Linked DNA regions of Homo sapiens: all the other regions are reported to be linked to region 2. Evidence: microRNA targets listed by miRTarBase, many of them from high-throughput screens and not tested one by one. Region 2 holds a microRNA gene; each other region holds the end of a gene's coding sequence.
The links. Region 2 holds the annotated microRNA hsa-miR-605-3p (AGAAGGCACUAUGAGAUUUAGA, at 2,208-2,229, shown strand). A microRNA usually pairs through its seed, bases 2 to 8, with sites in the 3' UTR of a target mRNA and lowers its output. Matches are read on the target gene's strand: a 7mer-m8 pairs with bases 2 to 8, a 7mer-A1 pairs with bases 2 to 7 and ends in A, and an 8mer does both.

Region 1 (3,221 bases), not on the chromosome of region 2:
CTTGTGATAGAGTACAGAGCAGCAGCCTTGGAGTCAGTCTACTTGGATAGCCTTCCATCTTCATGAATCCTTGGTTTCTTATCCTCAGAATGGGGCTAGTGTGCCATAGGCCAGTAGATTGTTTGGGATTAAGCAAGATTAAGAAATCACAGTGTCTGATCCTTTTTTAAGAAAATGTTTATGGGTTAGATTGAGAAAAGTGTATGTTTATAGAAAACAATAAAGACTAAACTGAATTAGAGTAGGCATAATTCCACCACCTCTGAGACAACCATTCTTCTTGGTGCATTTTCTTCTCATCATTTTCCTCATTTTTTTCCTCAAATAAGTTACCCTCAGTCTGGCTGATCTTGAAAATATGGTGAACTTTTATTATTTTTTAAATGTGCTAATTATAATGAATTTCTTTTCAATCAATAGGAGGATGAAATTTTGAACAGATCACCAAGAAACAGAAAGCCACGAAGAGAGTGAAACAATCTTAAGAGCTTGATCTGTGATTTCTTCTCCCTCCTCCCCTGCAAGAGTGGTCCTAGGAGAGGACCTGGCACACCTTAGGTTGACATTCAGAAAACTTCAAGACATCACCATCAGCAGGCTCCAGTTGAACACTAGTCTGTGTAACTTTAAACATCTAGCAGTAAATACTTGCAGTTGTGATATAAAGGACCCTGTTTCTGTAGAAAAGAAAACATTTAACATAATGGTTGTGAAATGTAACATGAAGCAAACTAACTTTTTTTTTTTTAACATCTTTGTTTTTAAAATAGAATGATAGAACTTTGCCAGTCTTTAAGATCTTGGCTTAATTTAATGTATTAATCTGTTTGTGCAAACATAATACCACCATTTAAAAATGTTAGGGAGATGAGTTGCAGTTTTTATAATAGATTTTTTTTAAAGTTTGGTATTGTAAAACATTCACACCTCTGTCCCTCAAAATTGATAATTACGTTTAAAGTGCAGTCATTTGTGGTTAGAATCTTGTTTTGTTTGCTTCCATTATTGAGTTCCTCCTAAGGAAATTGAGGAGAGGGACTGAATAGAAGCCCAAATTCATATAAAAGTTGCGTTTAAGTTGTATTAAAAATAGATATATAAGAAAAAATTCTTTCACTTGATGTTTGTTAGACCAGAAAGTGTGTGTGTTCTGTAGCTCAGTTCCCAGACAGCTTTTTAGGTAGTGGAGGAGGTGGCTTCATGTGGCACTTGGGCATTTATATTCCACTTGGGAGGGTCAGGCTGTGGCCTTCTGGAGCAGGTGGCTTGTTAAGGAATGCTAGCAGGGCATGGCACGTGAGCTCCGGAATAGATGTCTTCATCACTTCTTCCACTGTGTGTTGACACTGTTTTCCTTACCTATTTCCTCAGATCCCCAGCTTTCTCCTCTGCTATGCATTTTCTTCACAGTGCAGCTTGCAGTCCGTTGCTGAAAATGATTATAAGCCCTGCATAATGTTAAGCTTTATTGTGATTACGTGTATGTTTCTTCTTTCTTTTAAGCAGACCCATACCTTTCCAGGGTCAAAGTACAGAATAGAATACATTGATACAAAGTACAGAAAAATACTTTGATTTTTATCCATTTCTTTTACTCTGTGTAAAGACTTGAGAAGTCTAATTCACAGGCAAACCAATACAGAATTGACTGCAGTTGAACAGACTAGAAGTATTTGTGGGAGGAGTGACATGAAGCATGAGTTATCTGATTTTTTTTGTAGCTGCTATATATTTTAAGCCTTCATTTGCAATTCATGTAACAGTTGTGTCATAAATTACACAATAAAGCAGTCCTGTTCAAATTTTTTTTTAACGTGGCTTGTAGAATTTTTAAAAAAGTGATCTTAGGTTTGTTTTTTCATGCGGGATGCAGATGGGTGCTATCAGAGCCTCTCCCACACCACTATAGTGTAATAATGTTATTATTACTCTACACTGAAACGTATTCAGAGTTAGATATTATTTTAGCTTCAGTTGTTCTTTAGAGGCTTTCAAATGTACCGATGATACTGTTTCTTGCACTGAATATATAAACACTCCACAGTGTTTATATTGGGAAGATATTGGGAAGGAAATATATTTGTAAAAGATGAAGGCTGTATCTATTTTTTTTTCTTTTTAAAGTTTGTTCACTTAAATTCTTTTGAGGATGGGATGTATTTTTCTTGCTGTTCAGTGCTTTTTCCTTTTCATCTGTTGTTCTGTGGTCACAGTGACCTTAGCTACATAGCAGACTTTCCCAAATGTATTGATTACAAATAAACAGTTGTTACTTAGCAAGACCTGAAAATATGTCTGCAGGTTTCTCCTTGAAGCAAATGTGTGGGATCATTGCATTTCCAGAAATCTGCCTCCTTCACCCTCCGTTGACAGTATATGTCATGCCTCACTTTCTTCTAGCTGAGCTTTAAATCATTAGAGCTTAAATTGTCAGATCGTTCATTGCCTTTCCAGGGTTATTTAGTAAAGTTTGTTGAAAACAAAAACGCCTTTTCTTGGTTCTTTTTTCAGTTATTTTGAAGGTCCAGCATCCTGATTAAATGTCTGACACATTAATGAATGACCAGCAGCAGCTTTCAGCTCTTAAAAAGACACTTATATTTTGATTTTACATGCTGGTTACCTGTTCCATTGTTGTCAAATGCCCACTCTCCATCAGATGTGTTCCTCCATTTTCTTATCCACAAAGTACTCCTCACTTTTCAATTTGTCATGTTACTAAATGGTGTTACATTAAAGCCCTGTGTTAAGTGTCTGCTTTTGACTGAATTTCTTCATAGTAACCTTCAGTGTGTGTGTGTGACTATGTTCAATTAGTGGGTTGATCTTCGTATAATTGGCCACTATGTGAGAGTTCACTACTAGGCAGAAACTATTATGGACAGTGAAATAATGACTTTTATCTCACCACGTGAGTTTGATGCAGTCTTTTCTGTCTAGCCCTTGCCTCTTCCTGCCCATGTGATTGCGGTGCAGTAGTTTCTGTTGTATAATAGTGTGGACAGCAGCTCAGAAAAGGAGGGAATGCTACTGATAATTTGTAGATAATATTCTTTAAGACTTAGGGGAACCATTGAACTTTGAAATTTTTATTAGAAAATTATTTGTTCAGAATCAGACTCCATTATTTTACATATACTTAAATACTTTAGGGGTATTTTTGAAAGTTAGCCCAGTTTTTTATGTGCTATTAAATTTTTAGATTACATACTAAAGAAAAG
Region 2 (3,263 bases):
GCTACTGGTTTATCTTTTTTCCTTTTAAAACGTGAATTCTTGGATTTTCATATTATAATTTTATACTTACCTTAAATTAGGATTGAGAGGAAACTTTGACAACACCTCTTAAAAGAAAATTATTAACTTGTAAAAATCATACTTTTAGGTTTGGGTAATAGCTGGGGAGAAAGCAAAAGCAAATCAGGAAGCTTGTAGGTGACTCATGTGCATTTCTATGTATGAGCAACAGGAATGGTAGAACTTTTGTTCCACTGCAGTTGTACAATCTAATTATTCACTGATCAATCTACACATACTGCATTACTATGTAGGTTTTAAGATGGCATCTTTGCCATATGTCTCTTTTTTAACCTTGATATCTTACATGTAATAGGTTTTCATCAGTTTTGATGAAATCATGATGATAATGATTACGATAATGCCTCCCATTATTTTCTCTTTAGTATAAGGCATTTAATGGCTTTTCCTAAAAAATAATGCAAGCAGTTCTTAACCCTAACAATGAGGGATAGAGTAGGTGTCCTTACCTACACTTGTTACTATAAGTGATATATTTATATAAAGAGATGTATGTAAAGGAAATTCATTCACTCATTCATTTATGTACCTAACCATTATTCCTTCATCAGTTCTTGTTAAGCACTTACTATATTAGGCCCTGTATACATTTTACATGAATTATCTCCTAACCTTATAACAATGGTGTGTAAAGAAACTAATATTATCCATTTTATAGATGATAAATTCATGATTAGGGATATTAATTATGATGTCCAAATTTGCACAGGTGGCAAATGATACATTTGAAATCTGAACCCACACAATCTAATTCAAGAGTTACATTGCCACTACTTCAAAAAATGTGGTTTATTTTATAGGCAAAGAAAAGGCACTGAATTGAATATTATGACTAAGCTTGTGATCTTAAAAGATTTAGGTTCTGAGTTGGACCTGATTAAAAATTCCAGCTCCACCAATTACTGATTACATGAACCTGGTGGGAGTTGTTCAGTCTTTCCATACTCCAGGTTCTTCCTTTTTCAACAGTGTTGCTGAGCCATTAAATGAAACAGCTTTATGTAGAAAGCACTCAGCATAGTAAAATCATTATAAATGTTAGCTATTACACACTTACTTCTCTCCTTTTCTGGAGGAAGGGAGAAGATGGGTTTTTATTTTACAATCTTATTTTATAAAACTATAAGCCTGGAGTCTAGGGGGTAATGTAGGAATTGAAATATGAAATGGTTCTGATCTAAGGTAGAAACATTAGATGGATGAAAGAATATCATGCCGATAGAATTAAAAATTGTTAGGTTGGAGTATTTTATGTGGGCTGAGAGTAAAATAAATCTACAATTTGTGTGAGTGGTAGAATGTGAAGCGATTAAATAGGATAGGGAATTGGAAGGGAAGTGCTAGGACAATTCCTGGCACATAGTAGGCATGCAACAAAAGGTTGGAAGCTTGATTGCTGTGATCTGTATGCAAAGATCATATGGTTGCATAAATGTGTTAATATTGTTCTTTGGTAAGTGTTTTCCTGGTATTTAAGTGCAATGGAGCACAAAGGTTTGTTGTCTAAAGTGTAATAATGAAAGGAATATGACCATTACTCCATCTGTCATTTTCACTCATGCCTTTAAATGAGCCCTTTGCTCCAATAAAATGGTTCAGTTAATGGTTCCTTAAAGCCACACACACTTACCTGTCTTTTTGCCTTTGATGAATTTATTGCTTAAGACTTTAGCCAGTATCTCTTTTTGCCCATTCTTTTTATCTGTATTTATTTTTATATGTTTTTTGAGATGGAGTCTCACTGTGTTACCCAGGCTAGAGTGCAGTGGTACGATCTCGGCTCACTGCAACCTCCGCCTCCTGGGTTCAAGCAATTCTCCTTCCTCAGCCTCCTGAATAGGTAGGATTACAGGCATCCTCCACCATGCCTGGCTAAGTTTTGTAATTTTAGTAGAGATGGGGTTTCACCATGTTGGCCAGGCTGGTCTTGAACTCCTGATCTCAGGTGATCCACCCACCTCGGCCTCCCAGAGTGCTGAGATTGCAGGTGTGAGCCACCATGCCCCGCCTCTTTTTGCTCATTCTTTAAAGTAGGAACTTTGGTAGAACTTTCACAGCCTGTAACATATGTCTCTAGCCCTAGCTTGGTTCTAAATCCCATGGTGCCTTCTCCTTGGGAAAAACAGAGAAGGCACTATGAGATTTAGAATCAAGTTAGGACTGCAGATACAGGTTACCTATGTTACAGGCTGACAGCCACAGGTATATTGCTCTCTGCACATGTGTTTTTTCCTGGCCTCTCAATGACATTATAAGCTTCTATTATACCTCATGTGGCGTAACTGCTCTGCAATAATAGAAATTCAATAAAGGACTCTTTAATTTACAATTAAAGTCAGGATTGAATTTTGTGGAAAATCTTGATGCAAATGTACAAAAGAACTTCAAGAAAATTAGAATGCCATGAGTCATGCATTTCCTGGTACTATTCATTCTTCTTTAGGTACTATCATTCTGCTCAACCTAACATTTCTACCACCTACACCTACCATCTGGAATTATAGGCAGAGGGTATGAAGGGTGTCAAATCTTGAAAGAAAATTGCCTTTTCTCCAAAGTTGATGAAACTAAACCACAGTTGATTGGATTACTTGCTCAGCAAGAGAGTAGAACCTTGTCTTTATGAATTAAATGTCACTATTTCGTCTATTTGAAGATGACCTTATAGAGGATCATGGCTTACGACAAGTTATTTTGCTGAGGCTTGAATTTGAATTGTGTGTTGGTGAATGAGGCACTGCACACACAGTCAGAGCAGCTGCTCTCCATGCAGCTTTTCTTCTCTTTGGTTTTCTGTATCATACACAGTAATCCTTGGGTGTTATTCACATCTACTTCTTGTGGAGTAATAGTATATTATAGTGGTATCATAAATTCGGGATTTATGAAAGTTGTGGGACATACCTTCATGTGAATCTCAGTGGGTTACTGTATTTAATGATTTTTTCTCTTTTGTTTTGATTAAGAAGCTCTTTGCTGGGATGCTGAGTTCCGATTTAAATATTATACACCCTTCTTATTTCTCTCTGCAAAATTATAGCCTTGCTGATGAATTTTGCTTTACTCTTGAGTGTGGTTTACTTTTGCAGCAAATACAAATTTAGTAAGTTAAATCTAAAAGCCACAGTTAAACACAGTTCTCCTTCAGAGGTAAGAACCATAACTGTTTCTGTGGACCCCAG
Region 3 (3,263 bases), not on the chromosome of region 2:
CAGTGTCATCTATAGGTTAGGTAGGAAAAGGTGAACTAATGGAGAACAAAAATGAAGGCATCAATTATTCTGTCCACTCTCCCAAAGAGGACTCCCAGGAATGTCCGCGGCATTCGTCCTTGTGTTTTCCTCCACAGTGAGGACCTCTGTGACTGCCTTACATGCATGGATCCGTCACCTCATTTGCTATTGGGTCCTTTAGATCCATCATCTCTTGCTATTCCAGCTGCCCTTTGCTGGATATGGGAGGTGGGATATTGTCCTTTCTATTATAGATGAGAAAACTAAGTCTCCATCCTTGAATTCTCATGGGTAATCTCAACTGTATGGTTTTGAAACAAGTTTTTCTTTTCTTTCCTAGAAGAACACAAACAGAACGGGCAGGATAAGGACTCTTCCATAACAAGACTATGAAGCCACTTCCACATCAATTCCAGGCCACCTAATCCCATCCGAGGAGGCCATGGGGAGGAGGAGGGAGGGGAGTGGGCTGGGGGGAGAGTCTGTTTTCTGTGCACTCCCTGTGACTCTGGCCTTTCTTCTTCTTTTTTTAATTGACCAATTTTTAGTTAAAAAGGCAAAAGAAGGTGAATTTGAGATTTACAGAAAACAGTTCCAGTGTTTGGTTTCCGCTGTCTTTCCTTTCATTTGCCATGTTTTTACATTCTTCCAAATTTGGGGTCACTCCCCTAGCTCCTGATGCTGCTACTGTACCATCCTTTTGCTCCAGCCATGAGAGCAGACATTGCAGAATGTTGGTTCCAGGTTGGCATGCTCTGAAGCTCTTGAACTGTAGCACAGGCAGAGCCCTTTTTCTTCCTGTCATCTCCACCCGATTCCTTCCATCCCTACGTCTACCACTCTCTGGGTCCTCACTGGTCTTCAAAGGACCTGGCTCTCATAGGATCCCCTCAGGATTGTGTGCAGGGAGAGGGGGCTTTGCTGGGGAGGAGCTGGGAGTGGAGAGTTGGAGGGTGGGTGGGGTTCCCTCATCCAGTTTCCACAGCCCACCATGGCTGGAGCCAAATGCTAGAAGCGAGATTGAGAACAGTGGCCGTTTAGTGATGTGGTTTACCTAATACCACTGTCCAGCTGTGCAGCTCAGAAAGGATAAACCAGTCAGGGACAGGGGCCAGAACAGGTTTGGGAAGGTGGCAGCAAGCAGAGCATGGTGGGTAGGAGATGATCCCTAAAAAAACTGGAGACTGTGGTGGTCTGAGCTGGTCAGGAATCTGCAGAATCCCTTCCAGGAATCAGTGTGCCAGTGCCCACAGCAGGGTGAGCTAGGAGGGAGAAATCCCAGGAAAAAGGTCGTGAGAACCCAGAAAGCCACTCCATGAGGAGGCACGGTGACCACAGCTGCTAAAGGTTCTTAGGCTGCCTTCCTGGGCTAGGAAGAGCCCCCCAGGGAGAGCTTCCACAAAAGGGTATGTGTCAAACCTTTTGTCAGAATAAATAATAGCATTTCCCACCCACCCCCATGCCCTGGGCCACAGGGACTTGGTGGGATCAGCACACCCATGGATCAGCTTTTGCTGTCTTAGAGACAGCCATCCCCATGAAGGAATGGTAAGGACAGCCACTGCTCAGTGAAGAACAGCCATTTGGAAGAGCCACGCTGGAGCCCTGCAGCCATAGAACTATTCACACTGGAGTTTTAAAAGAAACAGCAATACCATAAGCTCTAGTAGGGAATCATAATCAGGAAAGGAATTCACAACATAAAATAGGTGTTCTGTGCTATTAATCATGTAACTTTGTATATGATGTATAGCAAAGATACTGGGAGGTTTTGTTTCATCCTTAAATCAGAAATGAATGCTAGTTTCATAGCTGGGCAGAACCCTCATCCCCACCCCAAAGTTTTCCTTTTCTTTCCCGTTCCCCCAACCCAAAGATCAGACTACTGTTAAGTTTCACCACACAATTGGAATTGCAAAGACGGGAGGCAAATGGAGTGATTTTCATCAATGGAATTGCACTGACAGTGAGTGTTTCTTATAGGATTACTAAATTTTTTAATATAAAATGATTTGTTTAAAAATCAGGAGTTGATATTAAGTACCAGGACATTAGTTCGGATGATTTCATTTTTATTTCTACAGTGTTAAAAGTGCACTTATATGCTGGTTTATTTACGTCTTGGGAAAAGAGACTGCAAATTGAAGGGATGATTGTTACTTTTTCTTTTTTTAAAAAAAAAAGGTTAAGGAGATTTTAAGACTTATAAATGTTTAAGAAATTATAAACAAGGTTAGACCCTTTGAAAAAAAGTTTAGAAGATATTCTTAAAGTAAATTTTTATAGTGTTAATTTTGTAATAATTTATGTTTTACTATATTACAGAGCTAACTGACCAGAATAGTTTCAGAAACAATATGAAACTTAGGAAAGTTTAAGCAATGTTTATATTTTTAAAATGTTCTTTGAATTATGTTTTTATTGTACATTTCTTCAGACTGAAAAGTATGTACATATCTTTGTTATTTTTGCACAATTTTGTCTTGTTCGGTTTCAGAGGTCTGTTGTTTTTTATAATTTATTTTGAGTTGTAAAACTTGCAGGAGTAAAAACAAAAAACAAAATCTCCACAACAAAATAACCCTCTGATTTATAAACTCTTATAGTCAAAGAGGGAAAACAAAGGTTGAGAGATTAAGTGGCTGCTTCTGAGAAATAATGTCTCAAGGACTAAAGGAGCAATTCAATAGGTTTAGACATTGTAGCTCTCTACATCTTGAATTGGAAGCTGGAATAAAGAGCCCCCACCCCCCCCCCCACCCTCATCGAATGCTGCTTACTTTGTCAAAAGACTGGCTATGACCAAGGTGAGGATATTTCTGGAAAACTGGGCAAAAAGGGAAAGCCCACAGTATTCTTCCTTGGCAGTCAACCACAGGTTTACTTTACAATGATGTATTAAAAACTTGCAGCTTGAAAAATGGAATGCAAATAAAAGGTTCTCTTTGGGTTTGTCTTAATGGAGTTAAACTGGAGCAGCCTATAAAACATTTTTAGGGTGATGTCCTCTGGGTCCTTCTGTTCTGCACACCCACTCAGTCTTCTCTCCCAGCCCCTTGACTGCACACACCCCTCTTTGCCTGAAGATCTCCTGACTTGTCGCCAGCCATAGAGGCTCGAAAGCTCTGGTTGTGAAGCATAACGCAATGCATAGACCTGTCAGCCATAAAAAAAAAAAAAAAAAAAAAAAAGCGACTTGGATAACTTGTATGCCTTCTTTTGTATCAATGTACCAATTGTAA

Region 1: miRTarBase lists CANX as a target of hsa-miR-605-3p. Seed matches in the 3' UTR shown: 7mer-A1 at 1,738-1,744.
Region 3: miRTarBase lists ATXN7L1 as a target of hsa-miR-605-3p. Seed matches in the 3' UTR shown: 7mer-m8 at 1,379-1,385 and 7mer-m8 at 3,232-3,238.

What each region holds. Positions count from the first base shown.
Region 1 is chr5:179,728,171-179,731,391 of GRCh38, forward strand. CANX (calnexin) reads left to right here. Exons shown (of 15, transcript NM_001746.4): 15 at 421-3,221. The coding sequence ends at 474. Among named protein-coding and RNA genes, the nearest start is that of MAML1, 3.0 kb to the right of the region's middle.
Region 2 is chr10:51,297,416-51,300,678 of GRCh38, forward strand. It overlaps MIR605 (microRNA 605), which reads left to right and starts at 2,158; the gene lies at 2,158-2,240. All of the region lies in intron 2 of PRKG1 (protein kinase cGMP-dependent 1), which reads left to right.
Region 3 is chr7:105,604,992-105,608,254 of GRCh38, reverse strand. It overlaps ATXN7L1 (ataxin 7 like 1), which reads left to right. Exons shown (of 12, transcript NM_020725.2): 12 at 365-3,263. The coding sequence ends at 403. Among named protein-coding and RNA genes, the nearest start is that of EFCAB10, 25 kb to the right of the region's middle.